4 linked regions of the Homo sapiens genome follow. The gene in region 4 interacts genetically with the main gene of each other region. Each region holds a gene or a part of one and is shown on either strand. Other genes may lie near its edges.

What was found. A genetic interaction does not mean that the proteins touch.
Region 1: changes in LARS1 (region 4) and MCM3AP together harm fitness more than expected from each alone (negative genetic interaction), as found in Homo sapiens cells (one large-scale study listed by BioGRID).
Region 2: changes in LARS1 (region 4) and UBA2 together harm fitness less than expected from each alone (positive genetic interaction), as found in Homo sapiens cells (one large-scale study listed by BioGRID).
Region 3: changes in LARS1 (region 4) and GTPBP4 together harm fitness less than expected from each alone (positive genetic interaction), as found in Homo sapiens cells (one large-scale study listed by BioGRID).

Annotation. Positions count from the first base shown.
Region 1 is NC_000021.9:46,282,812-46,286,786, reverse strand, and holds the start of MCM3AP (germinal-center associated nuclear protein), read left to right. Parts: upstream 1-1,175; 5' UTR 1,176-1,500; coding exon 1,501-2,719; intron 2,720-2,948; coding exon 2,949-3,172; intron 3,173-3,975.
Region 2 is NC_000019.10:34,431,381-34,434,880, reverse strand, and holds part of UBA2 (SUMO-activating enzyme subunit 2), read right to left. Parts: intron 3,021-3,500; coding exon 2,950-3,020; intron 1,534-2,949; coding exon 1,469-1,533; intron 14-1,468; coding exon 1-13. UniProt on the Homo sapiens protein: The heterodimer acts as an E1 ligase for SUMO1, SUMO2, SUMO3, and probably SUMO4. It mediates ATP-dependent activation of SUMO proteins followed by formation of a thioester bond between a SUMO protein and a conserved active site cysteine residue on UBA2/SAE2.
Region 3 is NC_000010.11:1,012,434-1,015,933, forward strand, and holds part of GTPBP4 (GTP-binding protein 4), read left to right. Parts: intron 1-31; coding exon 32-229; intron 230-1,813; coding exon 1,814-1,879; intron 1,880-3,319; coding exon 3,320-3,463; intron 3,464-3,500. UniProt on the Homo sapiens protein: Involved in the biogenesis of the 60S ribosomal subunit. Acts as a TP53 repressor, preventing TP53 stabilization and cell cycle arrest.
Region 4 is NC_000005.10:146,172,651-146,176,150, reverse strand, and holds part of LARS1 (leucine--tRNA ligase, cytoplasmic), read left to right. Parts: intron 1-3,376; coding exon 3,377-3,464; intron 3,465-3,500. UniProt on the Homo sapiens protein: Aminoacyl-tRNA synthetase that catalyzes the specific attachment of leucine to its cognate tRNA (tRNA(Leu)).

The sequences.
Region 1 (3,975 bases), on a different chromosome or scaffold from region 4:
ACTTTATTTGGTGGAACTGATTGAAAATCTTAAGGGAATTTACATTTACCACAAGGAGGAAGCAACAACGAGGGTCTATGGAAGGATGCCGCGGAATCCGGCCAGAAGGACTCCAGGCGGGCGGAGCGGAAGGAGCGGTTCCCAGAGAAAAGGGGGCGGGTTGGGGGTGCGCGCGGAGAGAGGCGCGCGGACGCGGCGGGGTGCGGGGAGGGGCAACGGCTGGGGAGAGAAGGGGCTGGAATGGGGGAGGGACAGGAGAGGGGACAGGTAAGCGTTGGGGGCCGGGTCCTCTGGGGTCTGGGGCGCCCGCAGACCCACGCGGGTGAATGCGACGCTCTCGCTTGGGAGACTAAAAACCCGCCCGGACGTACCGGTGTCTGGACCCAGCAAAGGACGCGAGAGCGGGCGGACCCTCCCGACCGGAAGCCCCGCCACAGAGCGGGTTGTGGGGAGCGGAACCGGATCGCAGCGGGCGGGGCGGAATCCGGTAGTGCTGAGCGAACCGGAAGTCGGTCCGCGGCGTTTTCTGCCCGCGGTGCGCAGCGCTGAGTGTCGCGGCAGCAGCCTGTGCTTGCGCCTCAAGTCTTTCCGAGGGGCCAGTGGGCAGCGCGGGCCTCGGGGTCCTGGGGCGAGACGGTGAGCGTGGGGGCTGGGCCGGCGCCAGGGGCGCCGTTTCCTTCCCCCACGCAGCTCCGCGCGCCCGGGCCTCCACATCGTCGCTAACGGAGCGTTGCGGCGCCGGCGACCCCTGGCGAGCCCGGGGCGGGACAGTGGCCAGGCCGGCCTGGGCCCAGCGCGTGGCCTCCGCCGTTTCGGGCTGTGCTGGGTGGAAGATTAGGCTCCCCGGGCACGCCGTCCCCGCCGAGAGGCCTCAGCTTCGTGGCAGCGCCCTCGTCCTTCCAGCCCGCTCGAGGGTGGCCGCCAGGGCGCGATGAAGGAATGTGAGAAAGTGCTTAGCGCTCCAGCCGCTCCGAGGGAAGCCAGGTGGGAGGAGATCCCGAAACGCTAAGGTTTTGACAGCGTTACAGTGAATTCTCCGGCTGTAGAGATTGGAGGAAGTCGGGAGAAATTCGTCTCTAAGTTGTAAGGTGGAACAGCATTCATTTTCTTACTGCCAATGGAGGTTTTTCATGAATTTACTAACTCAGTAAAAAGATTCGGCTTTTTTTTTTTTAATCTTAAAGGATCACGCTTTAAACCTCTGTAACAAAGTAATTATTTGTACCACTCTCTACCCCACCCTCCAACAAAATAACCTATCGGCTCTCAGAAAATAATAACCCTTTGCCTGCCTTTGAAATAGTTATCCTTTTAGTATGACAGTGTTCAAAAATTCTTTTCTTAGACTTGTAGCAGAACATAGCTATGATGATCTGAATTTTTCTCTTTCAGCTTGTTCTAAAGACGAAGGGGAACTCCCTAGTGCTACAGGCTGTTTCAGGAAGCCAATTAATTTTGTACACATAATACTTAATTACCTTCTAATAATTGGAGCAGAAGATGAACCCAACTAATCCTTTCAGTGGGCAGCAGCCTAGTGCTTTTTCGGCGTCTTCTAGTAATGTAGGAACACTTCCATCTAAGCCGCCATTTCGATTTGGTCAACCTTCTCTTTTTGGACAAAACAGTACCTTATCTGGGAAGAGCTCGGGATTTTCACAGGTATCCAGCTTTCCAGCGTCTTCTGGAGTAAGTCATTCCTCTTCAGTGCAAACATTAGGGTTCACCCAAACCTCAAGTGTTGGACCCTTTTCTGGACTTGAGCACACTTCCACCTTTGTGGCTACCTCTGGGCCTTCAAGTTCATCTGTGCTGGGAAACACAGGATTTAGTTTTAAATCACCCACCAGTGTTGGGGCTTTCCCAAGCACTTCTGCTTTTGGACAAGAAGCTGGAGAAATAGTGAACTCTGGTTTTGGGAAAACAGAATTCAGCTTTAAACCTCTGGAAAATGCAGTGTTCAAACCAATACTGGGGGCTGAATCTGAGCCAGAGAAAACCCAGAGCCAAATTGCTTCTGGGTTTTTTACATTTTCCCACCCAATTAGTAGTGCACCTGGAGGCCTGGCCCCTTTCTCTTTTCCTCAAGTAACAAGTAGTTCAGCTACCACTTCAAATTTTACCTTTTCAAAACCTGTTAGTAGTAATAATTCATTATCTGCCTTTACCCCTGCTTTGTCAAACCAAAATGTAGAGGAAGAGAAGAGAGGACCTAAGTCAATATTTGGAAGTTCTAATAATAGCTTCAGTAGCTTCCCTGTATCATCTGCGGTTTTGGGCGAACCTTTCCAGGCTAGCAAAGCAGGTGTCAGGCAGGGGTGTGAAGAAGCTGTTTCCCAGGTGGAACCACTTCCCAGCCTAATGAAAGGACTGAAAAGGAAGGAGGACCAGGATCGCTCCCCAAGGAGACATGGCCACGAGCCAGCAGAAGATTCGGATCCTCTGTCCCGGGGCGATCATCCTCCAGACAAACGACCTGTCCGCCTGAATCGACCCCGGGGAGGTACTTTATTTGGTCGGACGATACAGGATGTTTTCAAAAGCAATAAGGAAGTAGGTCGTCTGGGCAACAAGGAGGCCAAAAAGGAAACTGGCTTTGTTGAGTCTGCAGAAAGTGACCACATGGCTATCCCAGGAGGGAATCAGTCTGTCCTGGCACCTTCCCGGATTCCAGGTGTGAATAAAGAGGAAGAAACTGAAAGTAGAGAGAAGAAAGAAGGTGAGCTCTGAAAATGTAGCACATAGAGTAAATCCTGCAGGCAGGTTTTCAATACGTTTCTCTGGGTGTTAGCTTGATTTTTCAGATAAATCTCCCATAAACATTAGGGATTCTAACATGTCATCGGAGCAGGTCTTACATCTGAAAATTTCCTCTGCTTCGACACAGTTGGTGCCTCCTGTTGTTGGAAACATCTGATGGTTTAAGTGTCCATTCTCTGAACCCCTAGATTCTCTAAGAGGAACTCCGGCGCGTCAGAGTAACAGAAGCGAGAGCACAGACAGTCTTGGGGGCTTGTCTCCCTCTGAAGTCACAGCCATCCAGTGCAAGAACATCCCTGACTACCTCAACGACAGGACCATTCTGGAGAACCATTTTGGCAAAATTGCTAAAGTGCAGCGCATCTTTACCAGGCGCAGCAAAAAGCTTGCAGTGGTACATTTCTTTGATCATGTGAGTACTCCCATCTTGCCATTTGTTACCCTAGATTTGAACCTTGTCACTTTAAAACCTGTTTTTTTTTTTTGGTCCCTCAGTTGTTTGCTTACTATAATATAGAGAAAGTACTCAAATATCTTATTAGCATAGGCTGGGATAGCACTATTTATTTCATAACTTGGCATATTCTAGGTCCCTACAGAATATAGTACTCTAGAAATGCTGGGAGAGTTGTTCTCATGAAGTGAAATTCTTCTGAAAGGCTTTAGAAATTCAGAAATTCTTCTGAAAGGCTCTAACCACATAGTACTTTTGGAAGTTGAGTTTTTTGGTTTTGTTTTTGTTTTATTTGGTCATAGAAGATGATCGCTGTAAACGTTCAAACAATACAGAAAAAGTGAAATTGGCCGGGCGTGGTGGCTTACGCTTGTAGTCCCAGCACCTGGGGAGGCCAAGGTGGGCGGATCATGAGGTCAGGAGATCCAGACCATCCTGGCTAACACGGTGAAACCCCATCTCTACTAAAAATACAAAAAATTAGCTGGGTGTGGTGGCTCGCGCCTGTCATCTCAGCTACTCGGGAGGCTGAGGCAGGAGAATTGCTTGAATCCGGGAGGCGGCGGTTGCAGTGAGCCGAGTTCGTGCCACTGCACTCCAGTCTGGGAGACAGAGCCAGACTCCGTCTCAAAAAAAAGAAAAAGAAAAAAAGTGAAATTCCCCTTGTCAGTCTGTCCTCTAGAGATAACTGCTTTGAAGCACTGGGTTTGTATCCTGACTTTAAATGTATGCATAATACTTTCTTTTTATTTATTTATTTA
Region 2 (3,500 bases), on a different chromosome or scaffold from region 4:
TGGTTTCGGGCAGCTGGAAGTAAAACAAACAGTATGAGTTTTTGGGAAAAAAAAAATTAGTTATCTTTAATTAGGATGACACAGACTCAAAACTATCTTACTGGCTTCATTTTTTGTACAATTTTCTTATAGCTATGGCCAGAATAATACAACTGTTAATTACAGACATTTAAGAGACATTCACTTAGCAAAATATCAAATAGAATTTATATCACAAATTTACTCCAGGAGAAGTACCCACAGAAACACATAATCTTAAAAATCCAACGTGCCATATTTCTCTTCTATTGCTGTACCTTACACAAAACACTGTTTCAAGGTGTTCCTAAACTCACCACTATTCTAATATAACTAGCAGATAATACATGATAGAAATGAAGGCAGAATGTGGAATATCAACTTGGAACTATTAAAGTAGTTTAAGGCTAGGGAAAAAAGATGAGTCAGGTTAAGAGAGTAATTTCACGCCAGGAGCACTGGCTCATGCCCATAATCTCAGCATTCTGGGAGGCTGAGGTGGGAGGACTGCTTGAAGCCAGGAGTTCGAGGCCAGCCTGGGCAACAAAGCAAGACTTCATCCCTACAAAAATAAACATAAAAAAATTAGCCGGGTATGGTGGTACCTGTCTGCAGAGTAGCTACTGCAGAGGTTGAGGTAAGAGTATCACCTGAGCCCATTTGAAGGCTTCAGTGAGTTATGATCACACCAGTGCACTCTAGTCTGGGCAACAGTGAGACCCCCCAAGCCTTAAAAAATAAACGTAATTTTGACTTTTCCTTGTGTTTTTTATTTAGATATTTCTGGCCCAACTTGTTGTAAACTCACTTAGTAGATATACTTTTACATGTGGAAGTAATTACAGACAAAGAATATCACTCAAGCATCCCCCACCCCACCCTCCAGTCACACTTTTTCTTTTTTTGAGACAGGGTCGCACTCTGTCACCAAGGCTGGAGTGTAGTGGTGTGATCTAGGCTCACTGCAACCTCTGCCTCCTGGCTTCAAGCGATTCTCCCACCTCAGCCTCCGGAGAAGCTGGGACTACAGGCACATGCCACCACACCGGCTAATTTTTGTGTTTTTTGGTAGAGACGGTTTCACCATGTTGACTAGGTTGGTCTCGAACTCCTGACCTCAAGTGATCCTCCTGCCTTGGTCTCTCAAAGTGCTGGGATTACAGGCGTGAGCCACTGTGCTGAGCCACAGTCACACTTTTTGAGAGCTTTTCACTTCACTTCTATTTATACCTTTTGGTAGAAATGCAGAGAATATGATAGCTAAATTCCCGCCTGGAATAAGTCATTTCTATATAAAACTGCAATCAATGGGCATGCTTTAAACTCGATCATTTCTCTTAAGTCTTTTAAGTTCTAAATCACAATAGTCTAATAAATATTAAATTTGTAAACAAATTTGATATGGGAGAGAGGAAATACTGAGAAATTAAAAGTATTAAAATAACCTCACCTCTGTTATCTAAAGCATTCATAACCAGTATAAACTGTCGGAAAAATTCCACATTATAGTCAGGGCTACAAAACAAAATAAAAAAAGGTCACCAAAATAACTAGCCTTCCACATGATCTTTGCAGTATAATAAACAGTTCTGAAAAAAACATAGTAACTGTAAACAAAACTGATATCAGGATTATATGTCATATAGATAGTAAGGTTTGACTCTTTCCAAACATAAGCAGATTTTAAAGAAATTATTTCCTTCAAATTCCTATCCTTTTTGGCCAGCTAGGGCACAAGAGAAAGATCTCAAACTGGCAGAAAGATGGCATGACTTCACTAGTCCCACTAGGCCTTCTTTGGGCAGCAAGTGCCTGGGAACGCATAAAGAACACATTCCCAGGATCTGCCTGGCCTCTGACTTCACCTCACATGATCAGGATCAGGCAGGGTTCAGGCCCCTAGGGTCTCTGTTTTTAGCAGCACTGGGAAAGCAACACAGGGTAAGGAGGTTATAGGGCTACAGGCAGGTTCACAGAGTAAAAAACTAAAAAACAAGCCGGAGATACAGGCCGGGTGCAGTGGCTCACGCCTGTAATCCCTGCACTTTGGGAGGCCAAGGCGGGTGGATCACCTGAGGTCGGGAGTTTGAGACCAGCCTGGCCAACATGATGAAACCCCGCCTACTAAAATACAAAAATTAGCTGAGTGTGGTGGCGTGCGCCTGTAATCCCAACTACTCAGGAGGCTGAGACAGGAGAATCGCTTGAACCCAGGAGGCGGAGGTTGCAGTGAGCCAAGATCATGCCACTGTACTCCAGCCTGGGCAATAAGCGCAAAACCCTATCTCACACACAAAAAAAACACAATCCGGAGATACAAATGCCCTGAGAAAGTGTTAAGTACCTCAATTCCAGTACCTCAAACAAGGACTATTTTTAACACTATTTACTTGCAAGCTAAACCACCATAGATAAAGGACAATTTCGGCCCACAGTTCCTTTGCTCCAACTCCTCCAAAATTATATATTTACTCTATCTTTACTGAGATAAATATATTTATGTACTGTCAATACTACTGCCCTACCACAATTCCAAGTGTTATATTACAGAAGTCAGAGTCATACTACAGATTATTTTGGGAGGGAAACTTTTAAACAAAAAAAGGCAAACACTTTAGAAAAGTCTGAATCATCATAAATAAGGATATTTCATAGTTTAAAATATCTTCTTACTTAAGGCAAGCATATAAGGTCTTTATAAATTTCCAAGTAACTTATTTATTAAAAGTATTAAACTATCTCACCATTCTAAATCATTCAAACCATGTATTTATGAACTGGTAAAAAGAATGCCACTCTGTAAGCAGAAACCACCACTGTTTAATAATTCTAGAAAAATCATTTTTTTTAAAAAAGCTGAATGACTTTGAGCTTATATATTTGGCTTACAAAACCCTTATACAACTTTGCAATGTAATCACTATAGCATACTTCATGATGCTGTCATGGTAGGCAACGATATTAGCTTTCGGGTAAAACTGCAGTACACTTTCCTTGGCAACCTGGAAAAATAAACAACACTGAATTACTACAATATTTCTGTTCCTATCTGAAATCTGCTTCTGGAAGCCACAATGCTGTTATCTACTTACATAGTACCTTATTTATATTAAACACCAAAGAAGTCCAAAAATGTGAGAAAATTGCATTAGGGTTAAGCTACACTTATAAAATTATACTTTTATACTTATAAAATAACCGGAGAGCCCCCCCTGACCCACGTACCACCAAACACACTTCTACATGAATGGCAAGCTTCAGCAAAAATACAACATGAAGTAACCAAGTGTCATTCATTCATTCACTTAACAAGTATTTACTGAGCATCTTGCATGTACCAGGAACTATACAACGTACATGTCAAGCAAGAGAGACATTAATCAAATAACAATCCAGATTAAGTTCAACTACAGACTCTGATAAATGCCATGAGAATGACAGGAAAAGGCCAGGCATGGTGGCTCATGCCTGTAATCCCAGCA
Region 3 (3,500 bases), on a different chromosome or scaffold from region 4:
ATTTTGCTTCATTACAACTCCATTTTTAAAGAAATTGGAAGAATTAGAAAAAGAAGAAGAGCTGAGAACAGCTGCTGGAGAGTATGACAGTGTATCTGAGAGTGAAGACGAAGAGATGCTGGAAATCCGACAGCTGGCAAAGCAAATTCGAGAGAAAAAGAAGTTGAAAATTCTGGAGTCCAAAGAAAAGAATACACAGGGACCCAGGATGCCGCGAACTGCTAAGAAGGCAAGTTTGTGTCTTTCCAAAGCAGTGTGATCTAGTTTTTGAAAATTGGATTCCTGTGTGATCATTGCTAAATAACAACTTTTCAACCCATTTATGGCCATAAGATTGCACATTCTTGTTTTATTGGTGTATGGATTTGCAAGATCGCTCACGTATTGATCTTTTATATTCTTTACTGCGTCCTTTCTTGGTGACTTTCAGCTTCGAGTTTGGCACTACTCTAGATCCAGTCATTTTGCAGTTGTACAGATTAAAACTGTAACTTATGGTTCACAGACGTTCAAGGCTATCAGTGAACATTTTCCTCTTCTTTTTTCTCTCTCTCTTTTTTTTAGGGGGGAGATGGAGTCTTGCTGTGTCTCCCAGGCTGGAGTGCAATGGCGCCATCTTGGCTCACTGCAGCCTCCACCTCGCGGGTTCAAGCAATTCTCCTGCCTCAGCCTCCCGAGTAGCTGGGATTACAGGCACCTGCCACTACGCCTGGCTAACTTTTGTATTTTTAGTGGAGATGGGGTTTCACCATGTTGGCCAGGCTGGTCTCAAACTCCTTACCTCAAGTGATCTGCCTGCCTTGGCCTCCCAAAGTGCTGAGATTACAGGCGTGAGCCACCACGCCCGGCTGGTTTTCTTGTTCTTTAATTTCTGCATTAAATCTGGACTCTTTAGGCCGGGCGCAGTGGCTCACGCCTGTAATCTCAGCACTTTGGGAGGCTGAGGTGGGTGGATCACGAGGTCAGGAGATTGAGACCATCCTGGCTAAAACAGTGAAACCCCGTCTCTACTAAAAATGCAGAAAAATTAGCTGGGCGTGGTGGCGGGCGCCTGTAGTCCCAGCTACTCGGGAGGCTGGGGCAGGAAAATGGTGTGAACCCGGGAGGCAGAGCTTGCAGTGAGCCGAGATTGTGCCAGTGCACTCCAGCCTGGGCAACAGAGCAAGACTCCATCTCAAAAAATAAAAAATTTAAAAAAAAATCTGGACTCTTTAGCAATTTACAGAAACCTGACGCAGTCTACAAAAGGCAATTTATTGGCTCTGTGGCAGGGTGGGACTGGGGGAAGAAAGCCCACATGCAGGGCAGTTAACATGTAACCAGAGAAGTCACTTGACATTCAGGATGCCTCTCAGTGGGTCTTCCTGTTTGAATACACTGTTTTCACATGGTGGCAAGTGACTGGTTATGGCGGACTTGGACATTTTTGTACTTCTCCAGGTGGGGCTCAGCCATCTCTGGGAGGAGAGAGGTTGGCGCACTGCCTTTGTCTGAGGCCACCTCACTAACCTCAGCTTTAGTGTCTCACCTCTGATGGAGACGGTCACTCTCTCCCCCGTGTTGCGGTGAAGAATGGACAGACGTGGAGGATACGCTGATTCTTCCCACAGCAACTGCTCTGTTAATGTTAGTTTTCGTGGGATTTAATTGAGCTATCCAAAAACATGAAAGCGGGGCCCAATAAAAATTACAACTTCTAAAATAAGTATATTATAATTGTTGCAAAATATGTATACATATATATTGCCTTGAAGTTTTTTTCAACATTTCATCAAACTAATTTAAAGCTAATATTTCTTTTTATCCTTCTCAGGTTCAGAGGACAGTTTTGGAGAAGGAGATGCGTAGTCTTGGTGTTGACATGGACGATAAAGACGATGTGAGTGTGGGGGCGGTTCATGTGTTTATGTGGCTGGATACACCTTTTTAATAAAGAAAACTGGCCGGGCGTGGTGGCTCATGCCTGTAATCCCAGCACTTTGGGAGGCCAAGGCGGGCAGATCATGATGTCAGGGGTTCGAGACCAGCCTGGCCAACATGGTGAAACCCAGTCTGTACTAAAAAAAATACAAAAAATTAGCCGGGCGTGGTGGCGTGTGCCTGTAATCCCAGTTACTCAGGATGCTGAGGCAGGAGAATTGCTTGAACTTGGGAGGCAGAGATTGCAGTGAGCTGAGATCGTGCCCCTGTACTCCAGCCTGGGCGACAGAGTGAGACTCCATCTCAAAAAAAAGAAAGAAAGAAACCAGGGTTTTGGAAAGCCGTGGGAACGTGGGAAATTACAGCAAAAAGAAATGAGAGCTTCCAGTTTTTCTCTTTTGAGATTCGCTGGCCCTGGGACTGACTTGAAGTGATGGGTTGAGGATTCCCTGACCCTGGGTCTGGGTTGAAGTGGTGGATTGAGGCTGCACTCCAGCCTGGGCAACAGAGCAAGACTGTGTCTCAAAAAAAAAAAAGCTCCACAGCCAGCACGAGACAGCACCATGACGTGCCCAGGGTGTGGCTGCAGACCCTGTCCTCTAGATGTGCAGTCTGCAGTTTCCGTCTGATGGTTTCTGTCTGATGGTTGTCCCTTTGTGTTCATATCAGTAACCCCCAAAATGGGGCAGTGAGGGAGAGAGCATTGTTTATATCTGAAATATAAATTGTGATGCTATACTATAATAATCACTTTTAAATGAGAGTTCTAAGTTTCTTTAAGTGGAGTTAAAATCAGCTTTCTTACGTAAAGCAGCTTCCGTTAAGTGAATAAGAATATTTGACCAACAACTAATGTGAAATTGTTACTAATGTGAACTTGAAATGGTGTCACTAATATGAAAATACTGCGTGTATTTTCAAGACCTTTAGCCCATGTGTTAATGGTTCAGACGCTCCTCTCCTCCCCTCTTGCTGGAGTGACCTCATGCCTGTCGCTGAGCCTGGGTGCGGGGCTGGGGTCCTGAGCTCTGAGCCTGGGAGTGGACCTGGGGTCCTGAGCGCTGAGCCTGGGAGTGGACCTGGGGTCCTGAGCGCTGAGCCTGGGAGTGGGGCTGGGGTCCTGAGCGCTGAGCCTGGGAGTGGGGCTGGGGTCCTGAGCTCTGAGCCTGGGAGCGGGGCTGGGGTCCTGAGCGCTGAGCCTGGGAGCGGGGCTGGGGTCCTGAGCGCTGAGCCTGGGAGCGGGGCTGGGGTCCTGAGCGCTGAGCCTGGGAGTGGACCTGGGGTCCTGAGCGCTGAGCACTGAGCCTGGGAGTGGACCTGGGGTCCTGAGCGCTGAGCACTGAGCCTGGGAGTGGACCTGGGGTCCTGAGCGCTGAGCATTGCTTCCCCTGCTTTGCAGGCCCATTACGCAGTCCAGGCAAGAAGATCCCGGAGCATCACTAGGAAAAGAAAGCGGGAAGACTCTGCTCCCCCGTCCTCTGTGGCCCGGAGTGGGAGTTGCTCTCGAACTCCACGTGACGTTTCTGGTCTTAGGGATGTCAAGGTCAGTCTCTGTGTTGTGTAATGTAATAAAATGACAG
Region 4 (3,500 bases):
AGACAAAGTCTTGCTGTGTCATTCAAGCTGGAGTGCAGTGGCACAGTCATAGCTCACTGTAACTTCAAACTCCCGAGCTCAAGCAATCCTTCTTCCTCGGCCTTCTGAGTAGCTGGGACTACAGGCATGCGCCACCATGCCTGGCTAATTTGTTTTTTCTTAGAGACAGGGTCTTGCTATGTTGCCCAGGCTGGTCTCAAACTCCTGGCTTCAAGTGATCCTTCTGCCTTGGCCTCTCAAAGCTCTTAAGATTATAAGACATGAGCCATCACTCCTGGCCTCATTTTACCTTTTAATTTTTTTTGTTTTTGTTTTTTTTTTTTGAGACGGAGTCTTGCTCTGTCACCCAGGCTGGAGTGCAGTGGCGCAATCTCGGCTCACTGCAAGCTCCGCCTGCCGGGTTCACGCCATTCTCCTGCTTCAGCCTCCTGAGTAGCTGGAACTACAGGCGGCTGCCACCATGCCCGGCTAATTTTTTTGTATTTTTAGTAGAGATGGGGTTGCATTGTGGTCTCGATCTCCTGACCTCGTGATCTGCCTGCCTCGGCCTTCCAAAGTGCTGGGATTACAGGCGTGAGCCACTGCGCCCGGCCTTTTTTTTTTTTTTTTTGAGGTGGAGTCTTGCTCTGTTGCCTAGGCTGGGTGCAGTGGCATGATCTCGGCTCACTGCAACCTCTGCCTCCCGGGTTCAATGATTTTTCTGCCTCAGCCTCCCCAGTAGCTGGGATTACAGGTGCATGCCACCACGCCTGGCTAAGTTTTAATTTTTGTTTTTAATAGAGACGGGGTTTTGCCATGTTGGCCAGTCTGGTCTCAAACTCAAATGATCCGCCTGCCTCCGACTCCCAAAGTGCTGGGATTACACGCGTGAGCCACTGTGCCCGCCCATTATCTTTTTTTTTTTTTTAATTTGGAGACAGAGTCTGTGGTGTCAGATGGAGCGAGCCTCTGTCACCCAGGCTGGAGTGCAGTTGTGTGATCTCAGCTCACTGCAACCTCTGTCTCCTGGGCTCAGGTGATCCTCTCACCTCAGCCTCCTGAGTAGGTGGGACTGTAGGCGCACGCCACCACACCCAGGTAATTTTTCTATTTTTAGTAGAAATGGGGTCTTGTTATGTTGCTGAGGCTGGTCCCAACTCCTGGGCTCAAGTGATCTGCCCACCCCGGCCTCCCAAAGTGCCGGGATTATAGGCATGGGCCACTGCACCCAGCATTGAAAAAATTTCTTTTGTAGAAATGAAGTTTCACTGTCTTGCCCAGGCTAGTCTTGAACTCCTGGGCTCAAGTAATCCTCCCACTTTTGCCTCCCAAAGTGTTGGGATTACAGGTTTGAGCCACCATGCCTGGCCTTAATCTTCTCAATATACTTTAAGGTTAACAGCTTTTAAAATTTCTCTTTTACAGCTGAGGAAACTGAGGCACAGAGAGGCTAAGTAACCAGTTCAAGGTTACATCACTGGGAATTGACTGGGCCTGGGCTTGTTTTTAGGACTTTCTGATTCAAAAGTCTTTTTTCCTTGCTTATTAAGCTATATTCTAATGGATATATATATATATATATATGGATATATACATATATGGATATATATATATATGGATATATACATATATGGATATATATATATATATGGATATATATATATATATATGGATATATATATATATGGATATATATATATATATATGGATATATATATATATATTTGAGACAGAGTTTTGCTGTTGTTGCCCAGGCTGGAGTGCAATGGTGTGATCTCGGCTCACCGCAACCTCCGACTCCCGTGTTCAAGCGATTCTCCTGCCTCAGCCTCCCCTGTAGCTGGGATTACAGGCATGCGCCACCACGCACAGCTAATTTTGTAGTTTTACTAGAGACGGGTTTTCTCCACGTTAGGCTAGTCTTGAAATCCCAACCTCAGGTGATCCGCCCGCCTCCGCCTCCCAAAGTGCTGGGATTAGAGGTGTGAGCCACCAGGCCCCAGCCTTTTTTTTTTTTTTTTTTTTTTAAGAGAAAAAGAAATTGCTGTAATATAGTCTCTGGTGTTATACTTGAAGCTATAATTTGAAGCTTCTATTTTCTTCTAGAGGTTTGGTTAACTTTAAGGTAATTTAAAATAATTACAAGTGAACTGAAAAAGCTGCTTTGTTTAGTGAAAGAGAATTAACTATAGGTGTATGCAGTAAGACTGAAGAAAGTAATATAATGTCAAGTGAAGAAGGCAAATTGCAGAAGTCTATATGAAGTATGCCTTTTTTTTGTATGAAACTCACAAGTGAGCGAAACTAAATGATAAATAGTTTAAGGGTGCTGCCAAGTGTGCAAACTATTCAAAAACAAGGGAACGGTAAAAGCAAATTTCAGAATGTCGGTTATCTCTTGTGGGACAGTAGAGAGGAAACAGGTAGTTTCAGTGGATTCATAAGTCAGATGGTGTGTTTACAAGTGTTCATTTTATTATGCTTCATAACACAGTATGTATGTTAGATATTCTTCATAAGAAAAAAGAATACAGACCAAGCATGGTGGCTCATGAGCTCATGCTCATGGTGGTTCTTATATTGAGAACCCTGTCTTTACAAAAACAACTAAAAAATTAAAAAAAAAAAAAAAGCTTTAAAGGATGCGTTTAAAGTGAATCTACCACATATCAAGTAATATTGAGGATGTTTTATATTACCTGAGGGACTTTGAATTGCTTTATATATATATCTAGTATCTAGTGAAAACAAATCTCATTTATTCAGTAAAATATTAAATTAGCCTAGGTTCATAAGGGTATTAAAGAATTTTTTTTTTTTTGAGATGGAGTCTCATTTTCGCCCAGGCTGGAGTGCAGTGGCATGATCTCAGCTCATTGCAACCTCTGCCTCTCAGGTTCAATGATCAGGCGATTCTTGATTCTCATGCTTAACCACTAGAGTAGCTGGGATTATCAGCGCACGCCATCACGCCCGGCTAGTTTTTAGTAGAGACAGGGTTTCACCATGTTGCCCAGGCTGGTCTCGAACTCCTGGCCTCAAGCAGTCCACCAGCCTTGGCCTCCCAAAGTGTTGGGATTACAGGTGTGAGCCACCACGCCTGACCTAGTATATTATCTTTACTCAAGTATTTTAGCTCAAATTAAACCTCTAGTATTTGTTACAAGGCTATTTAATTCTTAATAGCAACCTATCAATGTCTTATTTCTTGTAAATCTAAAGTAATTTTCAATTTTAGAGAGTTTTAAATTTGTAGATTTATAAATTTACTTTTAAATATTTTTTAAATAACCTTAAGTTATTTATATCAAGCATTTCCTTCACCCCACTTCCTTATTGTAAAAGGAACTTAACATTTATTCTTCTGTACTTTCTTTTTTATACTGTTGTTTTGCAGCAAGGGCAAGTATTTTGTAACCTTCCCATATCCATATATGAATGGACGCCTTCATTTGGGACACACGTTTTCTTTATCCAAATGTGAGGTAATGTTTCCCTATGTTTGCTATAATGGGGAGGAA